2 linked regions of the Homo sapiens genome follow. The protein of the gene in region 1 purifies or fractionates together with the protein of each later gene. This does not show direct contact. Each region holds a gene or a part of one and is shown in the gene's direction. Other genes may lie near its edges.

Evidence for each region.
Region 2: the proteins of EIF2B3 (region 1) and EIF2B1 purify together in Homo sapiens (affinity purification with mass spectrometry; 8 studies listed by BioGRID and IntAct, with this or other methods). This does not show direct contact.

Annotation. Positions count from the first base shown.
Region 1 is NC_000001.11:44,878,465-44,885,760, reverse strand, and holds part of EIF2B3 (translation initiation factor eIF2B subunit gamma), read left to right. Parts: intron 1-4,021; coding exon 4,022-4,149; intron 4,150-5,752; coding exon 5,753-5,943; intron 5,944-7,296. UniProt on the Homo sapiens protein: Acts as a component of the translation initiation factor 2B (eIF2B) complex, which catalyzes the exchange of GDP for GTP on the eukaryotic initiation factor 2 (eIF2) complex gamma subunit.
Region 2 is NC_000012.12:123,619,883-123,623,959, reverse strand, and holds the end of EIF2B1 (translation initiation factor eIF2B subunit alpha), read left to right. Parts: intron 1-1,198; coding exon 1,199-1,324; intron 1,325-2,039; coding exon 2,040-2,204; 3' UTR 2,205-3,554; downstream 3,555-4,077. Other genes in the region: ATP-dependent RNA helicase DDX55, read right to left, coding at 3,820-3,996.

The DNA of each region.
Region 1 (7,296 bases):
AAAAAAAATTCTTTACAGTCACAGTTTTGCCTATATGACATTCTGTTATAGAGGTATTTTGATCTATCATTGTTGAATATTTTATTGTTCTCCATTTTTATAAATAACGGGAATACCTTTTTTTGAAAGATTCTTGTTTATAATCTGATGATTTCATCTATTCAGCAAATATTTACTGAGTAATATATTTTCCTTAGGATAGACTTATAGAAATGGAATTACAGGGTGAAATTATATGAATATCTTCAAGTCTTTTGCTATAATGTTGCCAATTATTTTTCAGAGATTTTATCAGTTTATACTCCGACTCCCATTATGTGACAGTAACGGTTCTCAAAGCACTCTTATCAGTAATGAAAATTGTTTTGAATCAGTTAATTTAGTTGGAGGAGAAATTGCATCTTATTTTAGTTTTTTACTTCTTTGAAAATATTTTATATGTTTTTTTAACACATATCTGTTTATTAAGAATATTCTTTGCCCTATTCATAGCAATTATTTTGTCTTTTTATTTGGTGGGATTGTTTGCTAGTAGTCAAGTCTATTGTTCTCCTTTGTGATTGCTTGAGAAGAGCTTATGATTTCATGAGATAAGACAGGTGTTTCTAGGAAGGCTGTGTATAAGAGGGAAAGGAGAAAGTAAGGTTGACCAGGGCACTGTATCCAGCAAGTGGCCTAGGCCCAGGATGTTCACAATGGTTCACTGTAGCTTTGTAACATTTCTTGGCACAGCTCTGAGCTGCCTGCACTTTAACTAGGAAGCAGGAAGAGTAATTGTTTCCTTCATTATGTTTCTAAGTCAACTGCATCATGGGGATTGACCTAATGTTGAGCTCCAGCAGAGGTGGGTGGGACCTGGCAGGGCTGTTTCATAGCCTCTCTTCAAATCATGGATCCTCTCGAAGGTTCTGCCTGATGGGGCCATGTGCCAAGGCTCGTCTGCTTGCCTCTTGCAGTGACAGTTCTTTTTGGTCTGTAATGTAAATATCATGGCCCTGAAATCCCCTAGCTGTCCGTGCTTTGTCACTTCTTCAAAGGGAACTGACTTGTTTTCCAATGGAGGAGGAACATTTGCTGCCTACACTGGTTTGAAGCATTAAAAGGGGAGAAAAAGAGCTAAGAGTAAGTGTTGCTTCATTCTTTGTATTCACATGGAAATTTTTAAATCTTCATCAAAGGATCAGGAGAAAAATCACATTGAAATTCAATACAAGAGCTCACAGCTTAACACAGAATTTTTCAAAATTGATTCTTTAAAAATTGCAGAAACTATGAACTGTGTAGCTCCAGGGTTCATAGTTTTCCTTACCCTCCTCAGCCTCTGCCTCTGTCTTGCCTTCCTTTCTACCTACACTCCATCTGTTTGGTTTTGTGTCAGCATGCAGAGCTTTGAATGGGGGCTGGGAGAGGTGGTGGGAAGTATGCAGCAAGTCAGGTTTATAGAGCTGCCCATACTTTCACCCCTCTCTCAGGCCTCATTATCTCATCTCTCAGAATATTGTAACTGGTCTCCCTTTCTTCAGTTTCCTTATTCCAGGCTTTCTTCCACATTGCTACCAGAATTACCTTAATAAGAGATAAAACTGTTCATGTCACTTTCTTGCTTAAAAACTACCACTGGCAGCCAGGTGCGGTGGCTCACACCTGTAATCCCGGCACTTTGGGAGGCTGAGGTGGGAGGACTGCTTGAGTCCAGGAGTTCAAGACCAGCCTGGGCAACATAGTGAGACTTTGCCTCTACAAATAATAAAAAAATTAGCTGGGCATGGTGGCACATGCCTGTGGTCCCAGCTACTTGGGAGGCCAAGGCAGGAGGATCACTTGAGCCCAGGTAGTCAAGACTGCAGTGAGTTGTGATTGCACCACTGCACTCCAGCCTGGGCAGCAGAGCAAGACCCCGTCTAACAAGGAAAAATTACCACTGGCTTCTCAGTCCAGACTTTCTAGACTGCTACTGTAACTCCTCAGTGGGTTCATCTTACCTGCTGCCGAGATAGAGACGATTTATCAAGATGGGAGAATTGCAATAAAGAGTTTAATACACATAGAGGCAGCTAAACGGGAAACCAGAATTTTATTATTACTCAAATCAGCCTCCCCCAGAATTCTGAGGCTAGGGTTTTTCAAGGATGGTTTGGTGGGCAGGGGTCTAGGGAATGAGTGCTGCTGATTGGTTGGGGATGCAATCATAGGGGTGTGGAAACCAGTCCTCTGCTGAGCCCAGTTTTGGATGGGGGCCACAGAGGGGTCACTGGTCCCAGTGGAGTCATCCAGTCATCAGAAATGCAAAAGTCAGAAAAGACATCTTAAAAAGCCAATCTTAGGTTCAACAATAGTGATGTTACTTACAGGAGTAACTGGGGAAGTTGCAAATCTTGTGACCTTTGGAAAAATGATTGGTAATCATGAGAATTCAGGCCCCTCTTGTAATCCTAAATTTGTACGCTTTTATTAGTTTTATAAAGGCAGTTTCATTTTGAGAAGGGCTATTATCATTTAAACTATAAACTGTAATAAATTTCTGGCTAGGCATGGTGGCTCACACCTGTAATCCTAGCATGTTGAGAGGCCGGAGCAAGCGGATCACCTGAGGTCAGGAGTTCAAGACTCCTGACCTCAGGATGGTCAACATGACGAGACACCATCTCTACTCAAAATACAAAAATTAGCCAGGCATGGTGGCCGGCGCCTGTAATCCCAGCTACTTGGGTGGCTGAGGCAGGAGAATCACTTGAACTGGGAGGTGGAGGTTGCGATAAGCCAAGATCGCACCGCTACACTCCAGCCTGGGCCACAGAGCGAGACTCCATCTCAAAAAAAAAAAAAAAAAAAGAAAAAGAAAAAAAAGTCAGGCACAGTGGCTCATGCCTGTAATCCCAGCACTTTAAGAGGCTGCAGCAGGCGGATCACTTGAGGCCAGGAGTTTGAGACCAGCTTGGCCAACATGGCAAAACCCCATCCCTACCAAAAAATACAAAAACAGCCAGGCATTGTGGCATGTGCCTGTAGTCCCAGCTACTTGGGAGGCTGGAGCACAAGAATCACTTGAACCCAGGAGGCAGAGGTTGCAGTGAGCTGAGATCATGCCACTGCACTCCAGCCTGGGCGATAGAGCAAGACTGTCTCAAAAAAAAAAAAAAAATTAGCCAGGCATGTGGCTCTCACACCTGTAATCCCAGCTTTCCAGCCACTCAGGAGGCTGAGGTGGGAGAATCACTTGAACCTGGGAGGCAAAGGTTGCAGTGAGCTGAGATCGCACCACTGTACTCCAGCCTGGGCAACAGACAGAGTGAGACCCTGTCTCAGAAAAAAAAAAAAAAAAGTTTTCTCCCAAAGTTAGCTCAGCCTATGTCCAGGAATGAGCAAGAGCAATTTGGAGGTTAACAGCAAGATGGAGTTGATTAGGTCAGATTTCTTTCACTGTCATAATTTTGTCACTGTTATTTTTGCAAAGGTGGTTTCACCACAAAAAGCTTTCGTGATCTGGCCCCCTTGCCTACCTGATTAGCTTAACCTTCTGCTTTTCCTCTTAAACTCATACAGGCTACTGTCCATTGGATTATGAATTCCTTGAAGTCAGAAATGATGTATTTCCAAGGCCTAGCACAGTAACTCGCATATGCTTGGTAAATGCTACATAAATTAATTAGCAATATAAAATTCTAATAAGGTCACAGTGTGAGAGAACACTGAAAAACATGTGCTAGTTTCTCATCTCTCTGCTTTCCATTGCTAAGTATAAATAAAAACATAAATAAAAAACACACACTGAACTAAAGATCAGGTCCCTTCTTCCCCTAGTACAGATTCCTGATCACTTAGACCCAACATCCTGTCTCAGTACCCACCAGGAAGCACTCTGCTTCTCCGAACTGCCAAGTCAATGCCACATTTGATCTCTGACAGTCCCAAGGTGCCATGACAGGAAAGGATTTGGCTTTTCCTTGTATGCACAGAGCTTTTGATCCGGGTATGTTCCAGACAGTCAGGTTTCTCATATTTGGCCATTCTTTCTTTCTAGGTCAATAACTTCTATCCGGAGTGAACTGATTCCATATTTAGTGAGAAAACAGTTTTCCTCAGCTTCCTCACAACAGGGACAAGAAGAAAAAGAGGAGGATCTAAAGAAAAAGGAGCTGAAGTCCTTAGGTCAGTTCTTGGGTTGGTTCAGTAAGAGGGGCAAGGGTAGCAGCACCTTTGGAAAGAGTGGTTGGGCAGCTTAGCCCAGCCCAAGATGCCTGACTCAAGGCAGCAGACTATTTCTAGCCTACGAGGCAAGACAGGCTTGCCAACCCACTGAGCTCTGGGTAAGCTTGCTCAGGCAGATTCTGCCACTGTGCTCTCGGCAACAGGCTAATCATGCCTCCAGCCCCATTCTCTGATTCATAGCTCTGGTTTGGCTGTGTTCCTCACTAGACCATTTTGCCTTTAAACTCCACCTGCCACTTCTTAGTTCCCCTGTTCTCTAGGCTCTAGGCAGCCCCGTTCCTGATTAAACTCAACCTCTTTTATCAAGGGAAGGAAAGTGAAGGAATGTACAATTGCAGTCCAACCACAGGCCAACCCAGGTGTCTCCGTGCCAGGATCTGAAGATCGGATCTGTCTTGTTTGCTGTCATATCCCTAATCCCCGGCCCAGTCGTGGACTCATAGTAGATATTCTGAAAAAGTATTTATCAAATGAATACACTGACAGTACAGCATGATGATTAGGACTGTAGAACTGGGCATCAGACAGTTCTGGATTTGAAATCTGACTGCCTCTTACTAGCATTGTGTCTTTTTTTTTTTTTATTTTTTTGAGACGGAGTCTCCCTCTGTCGCCCAGGCTGGAGGGCAGTGGCGCAATCTCGGCTCACTGCAAGCTCCGCCTCCCGGGTTCACGCCATTCTCCTGCCTCAGCCTCCCCAGCAGCTAGGACTACAGGCACACGCCACCACGCCCGGCTAATTTTTGTATTTTTAGTAGAGACGGGGTTTCTCTGTGTTAGCCAGGATGGTATCGATCTCCTGACCTCATGATCCACCCGCCTCGGCCTCCCAAAGTGCTGGGATTACAGGCATGAGCCACCGTGCCCGGCCAGCATTGTGTCTTGAGGCAGGTTACTCAGTCCTCTGAGCCCCAGTTTTTTTATGAGAAAGTAAAAGATCTCAAAGGATCGTTGTAAGAGCTGAAAAACTAGAGCCCTGGTACTCTGGGCTCCAAGTTCTGTACTTTCTGTCATAGCACAGCTACCAGATATGGTAATAGAGACTAGCAGCACAAAGTCAACCTGGCTGGCCACTAAAGCCTGGATGCTGGCTTGTGTTATTTCATGATTTACAAGGGTCATCTGTTTTATTTTCCCTAGTGGTCTTGATTACCGGTCACATGCTTTTAGGACCTCGTATTAAGCATTTTTATATCATATGATATTTTAGGGAAGTACATTTCCTCTTTTAGTTTGACTTTCTCTTACAGATTTTAGTGGGATTTCCTCAGGGTTCATGTTTTGTGGGTGAGTTTCAAAGGAAGAAGTGTGAGCTGTAATCTCTTTTAAAACTTAGAGCCAAGCATGGTGGTGCACACCTGTAGTCCCAGCTGCTCAGGAAGCTGAGGTGGGAGGATCCCTTGAGTCTGGGAGTTTGAGACCAGCCTAGGCAACATAGCAAGACCTCGTCTCTTAAATAAACAAAAAAACAACTTGACTGAGTCTGTATCTGTTCTGTTATCTCTCTCTCATTTATTTCCTTGGTTGGGTGTTTGTTCTGAAGATATCTACAGTTTTATAAAAGAAGCCAATACACTGAACCTGGCTCCCTATGATGCCTGCTGGAATGCCTGTCGAGGAGACAGGTGGGAAGACTTGTCCAGATCACAGGTGCGCTGCTATGTCCACATCATGAAAGAGGGGCTCTGCTCTCGAGTGAGCACACTGGGACTCTACATGGAAGCAAACAGACAGGTGAGAGCATGAGTTAGAAAATCATGGGGCTCTTGTCCTAGAAACAGACTGAGCCACTTGTCTGTTTCTTCATTAGGTACATAGTAACTTGTTAAGAATCCCTGTCATTCCCAAGGTTGAGCAAGACCTGGCACGTCAAGGGAGACTACTAGGGTACTCAGGTGCAGCAAAAAGGGAAGCAGGGGGCCTGGTCCATAGTCAGGGCCTCTATGGCTCCAGGGAAAGGCTAAGATCTTCAGGAAGGCTAACTTCTGGCCTTTGGGTCAGCAGGTTCCTCCTGTTCTGTTCAGCATGGGGATATCTGCAGTACTTACTTCATAATAAGCAGGTAAATACTCTGTAATCATTACTCTGATGAAGTAAACATAGGCATACAGAGGAGGCTTCCCTGAGAAGGTGAAGGAGCAGAGTATAGAGTGGCCAGATGGCAAAGCCTCAGGAAAGGAATGACTTTGAGAGAGAATTGTCTGCAAACAGCATTAATGAGGAGTCTCTTGCTAGCCCCTCCTTTTAACCTTGAAGTTTGTGAGATATGGGGAACAAATAGCTTCCACTGAAGGAGAAGCAGTGTCCTCAAAGATAAGCCAGGCCTTAATGAAGGCAGGGGGTGGAGAGGGGGACAGTAAAGAGGCTGAAGGTATAAAGGAACTCTGTATTGTATAGTAGGCCCAGGAGGAAGGTTTTGGGAGGGAGGAATAATAAGACTAGGAAAAGGAAATGCAGAGCAGTAAAGGGTTTAGATGAGAATAAGAAAAGAGTCCGGGCACGGTGTCTTACGCCTATAATCCTAGCAATTTGGGAGGCCGAGGCAGGTGGATCGCTTGAGTCCAGGAGTTCGAGACCAGCCTGGGCAACATGGCAAAATCCTGTCTCTACAAAAATACTACAAAAATTAGCCAGGTATGGTGGCATGTGGCTGTAGTCCCAGTTACTTGGAAGGCTGAGGTGGGAGGATCACCTGAGCCTGGAATGCAGAGGTTGCAGTGAGCTGAGATTGCACCACCGCACTCCAGCCTAAGCCTAAGCAACAGAGTGAGACTCTGTATTAAAAAAAAAAAAAGAGGATAGGAAAAGATAAATAATTGAGGGAACTACATTGGGGTGGCATTCAAGGATAACAGAGGTGAGATAATGAAAAGATTAGTTATTGACATTGCTCCTGGTAGAACCCTGTGAAAATATAATTGCAGGTGTAGACCAGGGTGGCAGTGGAGCGCAGAATAATATAAAAGAAATTGTTGAAAATTGGGATTGAGGCCGGGCACAGTGGCTCACGCCTGTAATCCCAGCACTTTGGGAGGCTGAGACGGGTGGATCGCCTGAGGTCAGGAGTTCGAGACCAGGCTGGCCAAC
Region 2 (4,077 bases), on another chromosome or scaffold:
CCTGAAGCAATCTTTCCACTTCCCAAAGTGCTAGGATTACAGGCATGAGCCACTGTGGCCGGCCTGTCATTTGTTTTCATTTTAATTGAGCACATTTGACCTCAATTTATTACAATCTCTCTCTCCATTATTTAATTTAGAAAAGCTTCATGAAAGCTTTTTTTAGTTAAAATATATGTAACATAAGGCCGGGCGTAGTAGCTCACGCCTATAATCCCAGCACTTTGGGAGGCTGAGGCAGGTAGATCATCTGAGGTCAGGAGTTCGAGACCAGCCTGGCCAACATGGTGAAACCCCATATCTACTAAAAATACAAAAAATTAGCTGGGCATGGTGGCGGGTGCCTGTAATCCCAGCTACTTGGCAGGCTGACGCAGGAGAATCGCTTGAACCTGGGAGGCGGAGGTCTGCAGGCAGAGTGTTGAGTCACATGGTAACTATATATTTAACTTTCAGAAACTAATGATTTTCCACAGCAGCTGCACTACTTTACATTCCCACTAGCAAAGCACAAAGGTTCCAATTTCTCTACATCCTTGCCAACACTTGTTTTTTTAAATTTTTTTATTTTTTGAGATGGAGTTTCACTCTTGCTGTCCAGGCTGGAGTGCAATGGCACAGTCTTGGCTCACTGCAACCTCCAGTGCCCGGGTTCAAGCGAGTCTCCTGCTTCAGCCTCCCTAGTAGCTGGGATTACAGGCACCCCCCATCCCACCATGCCCAGCTAATTTTTTGTATTTTTAGTAGAGATGGGGTTTCCCTATATTGGCCAGCTGGTCTCAAACTCCTGACCTCAGGTGATCCACCCACCTCGGCCTCCCAAAGTGCTGGGATTACAGGCGTGAGCCACCACATCCAGCCTCTAGTGGCTGTTTCTATATCCTTTGAGAAACATTTATTTTTTTGATTCCAAAGTCAGAATTAGATATATCTAATATATGTATTAGATATATGTATATCTATATTATATACATAACTTTCTATTGCTGTTTTTTAATTGTTCCTTTATTGTAATTGAGACGAGGTCTCACCGTGTTGCCTAGGCTGGTCCCAAACTCATGGGTTCAGGTGATCCACCCACCTCGGCCTCCCAAAATGCTGGAATACAGGCATGCACCACTGTGCCCGGCCCGCTTTTCTGTGGCTTCTACTTCAGATGCACTCTAGAGCTCATCCATTCCATTTTCTGCCTTCCCAGATTGGAACCAACCAGATGGCTGTGTGTGCCAAAGCACAGAACAAACCTTTCTATGTGGTTGCAGAAAGTTTCAAGTTTGTCCGGCTCTTTCCACTAAACCAGCAAGACGTCCCAGATAAGTTTAAGGCAAGAGTTTTACATATTTGAAGGGGTACTAAAGTCTAAACAGAAACCTTTGGAAATTGTAGTCCTAAGAATGTTCCAGTAATTTTTTCACTTCCTATTGCTACTTTCCCCAACACTTGGAATACAAAGATAAATTGGTGATTGGACTCACACATTTGTCCCTAGAACTTCAGTCTTTCAGTCTCTTTAAGTAGCACCATAGATGGGTGGAGAGGAAGCCCGAAGCTGGTGGGTAAGTCCCAGCTTTGGGCTTAACTGAGCTCAGCTCCCATCACCACAACTTACAAACTGTGCGAGTTGAGGCAAGTCCTTTCATTTCAACCTCTGAACCGGTTTTCTTGTCTGTAAAATGGCATAGCAGTATCTGACAGGGTCATGAGGATTCTAAGATAATCTTAGCACAGTCCCTGGCACGCTGCAAGCTCTCTATTGTGACTCTCGATCTTCCCTTGAGAGGTCTGGAGAAGTTAATCCGGCATGAGAATGAGGGGACATGGGATTTAAGTTTGTTACACTACAGCTCTCAGCCAGCACACTGCCATGATCTGGCTCATGGCCACAACTCTGCCCTCGTCTCTAGTGTCCTGCATAGCTTAGTTTCTCCCATTTTCAGAGAGCAGTCTCAGGAAGTAGCACACTGATCACTCACACCAAGGCCCTACCAGGTCAGAGCACTAAATATTCAGTGCCGACTAATGTGTACTTCTCTCCTCAGTATAAGGCAGACACTCTCAAGGTCGCGCAGACTGGACAAGACCTCAAAGAGGAGCATCCGTGGGTCGACTACACTGCCCCTTCCTTAATCACTCTGCTGTTTACAGACCTGGGCGTGCTGACACCCTCAGCAGTCAGCGATGAGCTCATCAAGCTCTATCTGTAACCTGTGAGCCCTTTCCTGCCAAGGTGCAGCTTACGTAGTTGAGGCAGGGTGAGTAGCTGCTTGACACCCCAGTGAGTCAGGCCAAAACTGAGATGTGTTTAATGAAGATTTATGGAGTAAGGACTTAAAATCATACATCTTGGAGAACCTTTCTTACTCATTTCAGTCCCATCTAAAAATGTGTCAGCTATTCTAAATCCCAACTTAAATTGTTCTTACGGTTTCTAGAAACTTTCCTTTTCAGTTTCCAGAAATACAAGTTAGATAATTGGCTACTTAACTGATGAAAGATGAGCCCAAGTCCACCTGTCTTCATCCTCCCCTGCACTCCAGACTGATCTGCCTAAAGCACGCGAGATGCAGGCGAAAAGCAGCCACACCCCTCTGCCACAAATGACCAACAGCTGGTCAGGACGTTACACGCGGTGCCTTGTAAGAGGCAAGAAACACTTGCTGAATCTGCATCTGGCTTCCAGTGGTAAGCACATTCCTCAGCAGGATCAAGCCAAACAGTAAAAACTACCAAGAGAACACGAGGAAGGCAGAAACGATGTTTAGCAACAGTATTCTGCATGGTTCACTGCTTAAGAAAATGCCTTCTGGAATATTTGTAAACTGAAATTCTGTATGTGTAAGAGATGTTTAAATATGTTTGGGTCCTAAACAGCTTTTTAAAATTATACTTGGGAATAAATTCAGCATCTTTTCAAATAAACTCTATGAAAGACGCTGATGTGGTGTTGCATCAATACTGCAAGCTGACCAGGCCATCTAGGGGAAAACACTGTCCAGCTACATTTACACACTTAAGACCCAGGCAATCAGGACACCATTTATTCAACAGGAGGCATAAAAACTATAATTCTCTTTCCCGGAATATGACTTAATCCCTCTGTTTTTCAGCTATTCACCAATAAAACAATACTGTGACTATTAACACAGAAAAACCCCAGCACATTAGCCACCCCTGCAGGACATCAAAGGATAACTGAAGCCCAGGGCCAAGCACATTCAGGAGGTCAAATGCCTGAAGATACTGAGGAATGGTTTTGAAAATCAGAAGTCAAGAAGACTTCTGTATCTTTATGTTTAAAAATAACTATAAAATAGCCTCAGAAAAAAGAGCTTATATATATATATATATATATATATATATATATATATATATATATATAATATGTACATATGTCTATATGTGACCCATCATGATAAATACTGACATCTATTATTTACACTCAAATAATTTTACATTTTCTTCTGTTAGACTACTCCAAGACTGGAATTGTTTTGTTTTGTTGTTTTTAATGAGAGGGTCTCGCTGTGTTCCCAGGCTGGTCTTGAACTCCTGGGCTCAAGTGATCCTCCTGCCTCAGCCTCCCAAAGTGCTGGGATTATAGGCAGGAGCCACCGCACCCGGCCAAGACTGGAATGTTTTTAGTAAAATATTCTGAAGTGTGAAATCCTTCATTTCTCCCTCATCTGAAAGGACAGCTTTCAGAGACATCATTCTTTTCAGATGTCTCCTGAAGTTGTGATTTTCGTTAAAAGCAAACTGGAGCCATCCACCAAGTTAGGGAACAGCTATGTCCTTGTGGGTTCATCTGTGGCACTGGAATCAGCAGTCATCTTCCAAATCTGAGATCCCTAAATCCACTGTCTTGATTGTTCTTTTGCCAGTTGTCAACAAGCCCTTCTCAAATTCTTCTTCAGTTATTTTGCCTTTCTTAAGTTTTTTCAAGAGTCTTGTGTCATTAAGAAGTTCTTCCATGTCCTCATCTTCAATATCAGAACCCTAAGTGCAGAAGAAACCAATAAACTACTAAATTTTTCAGCAATAGTGTTGTAGTGAAACCAGCAGTTTTAACTCAAGAAC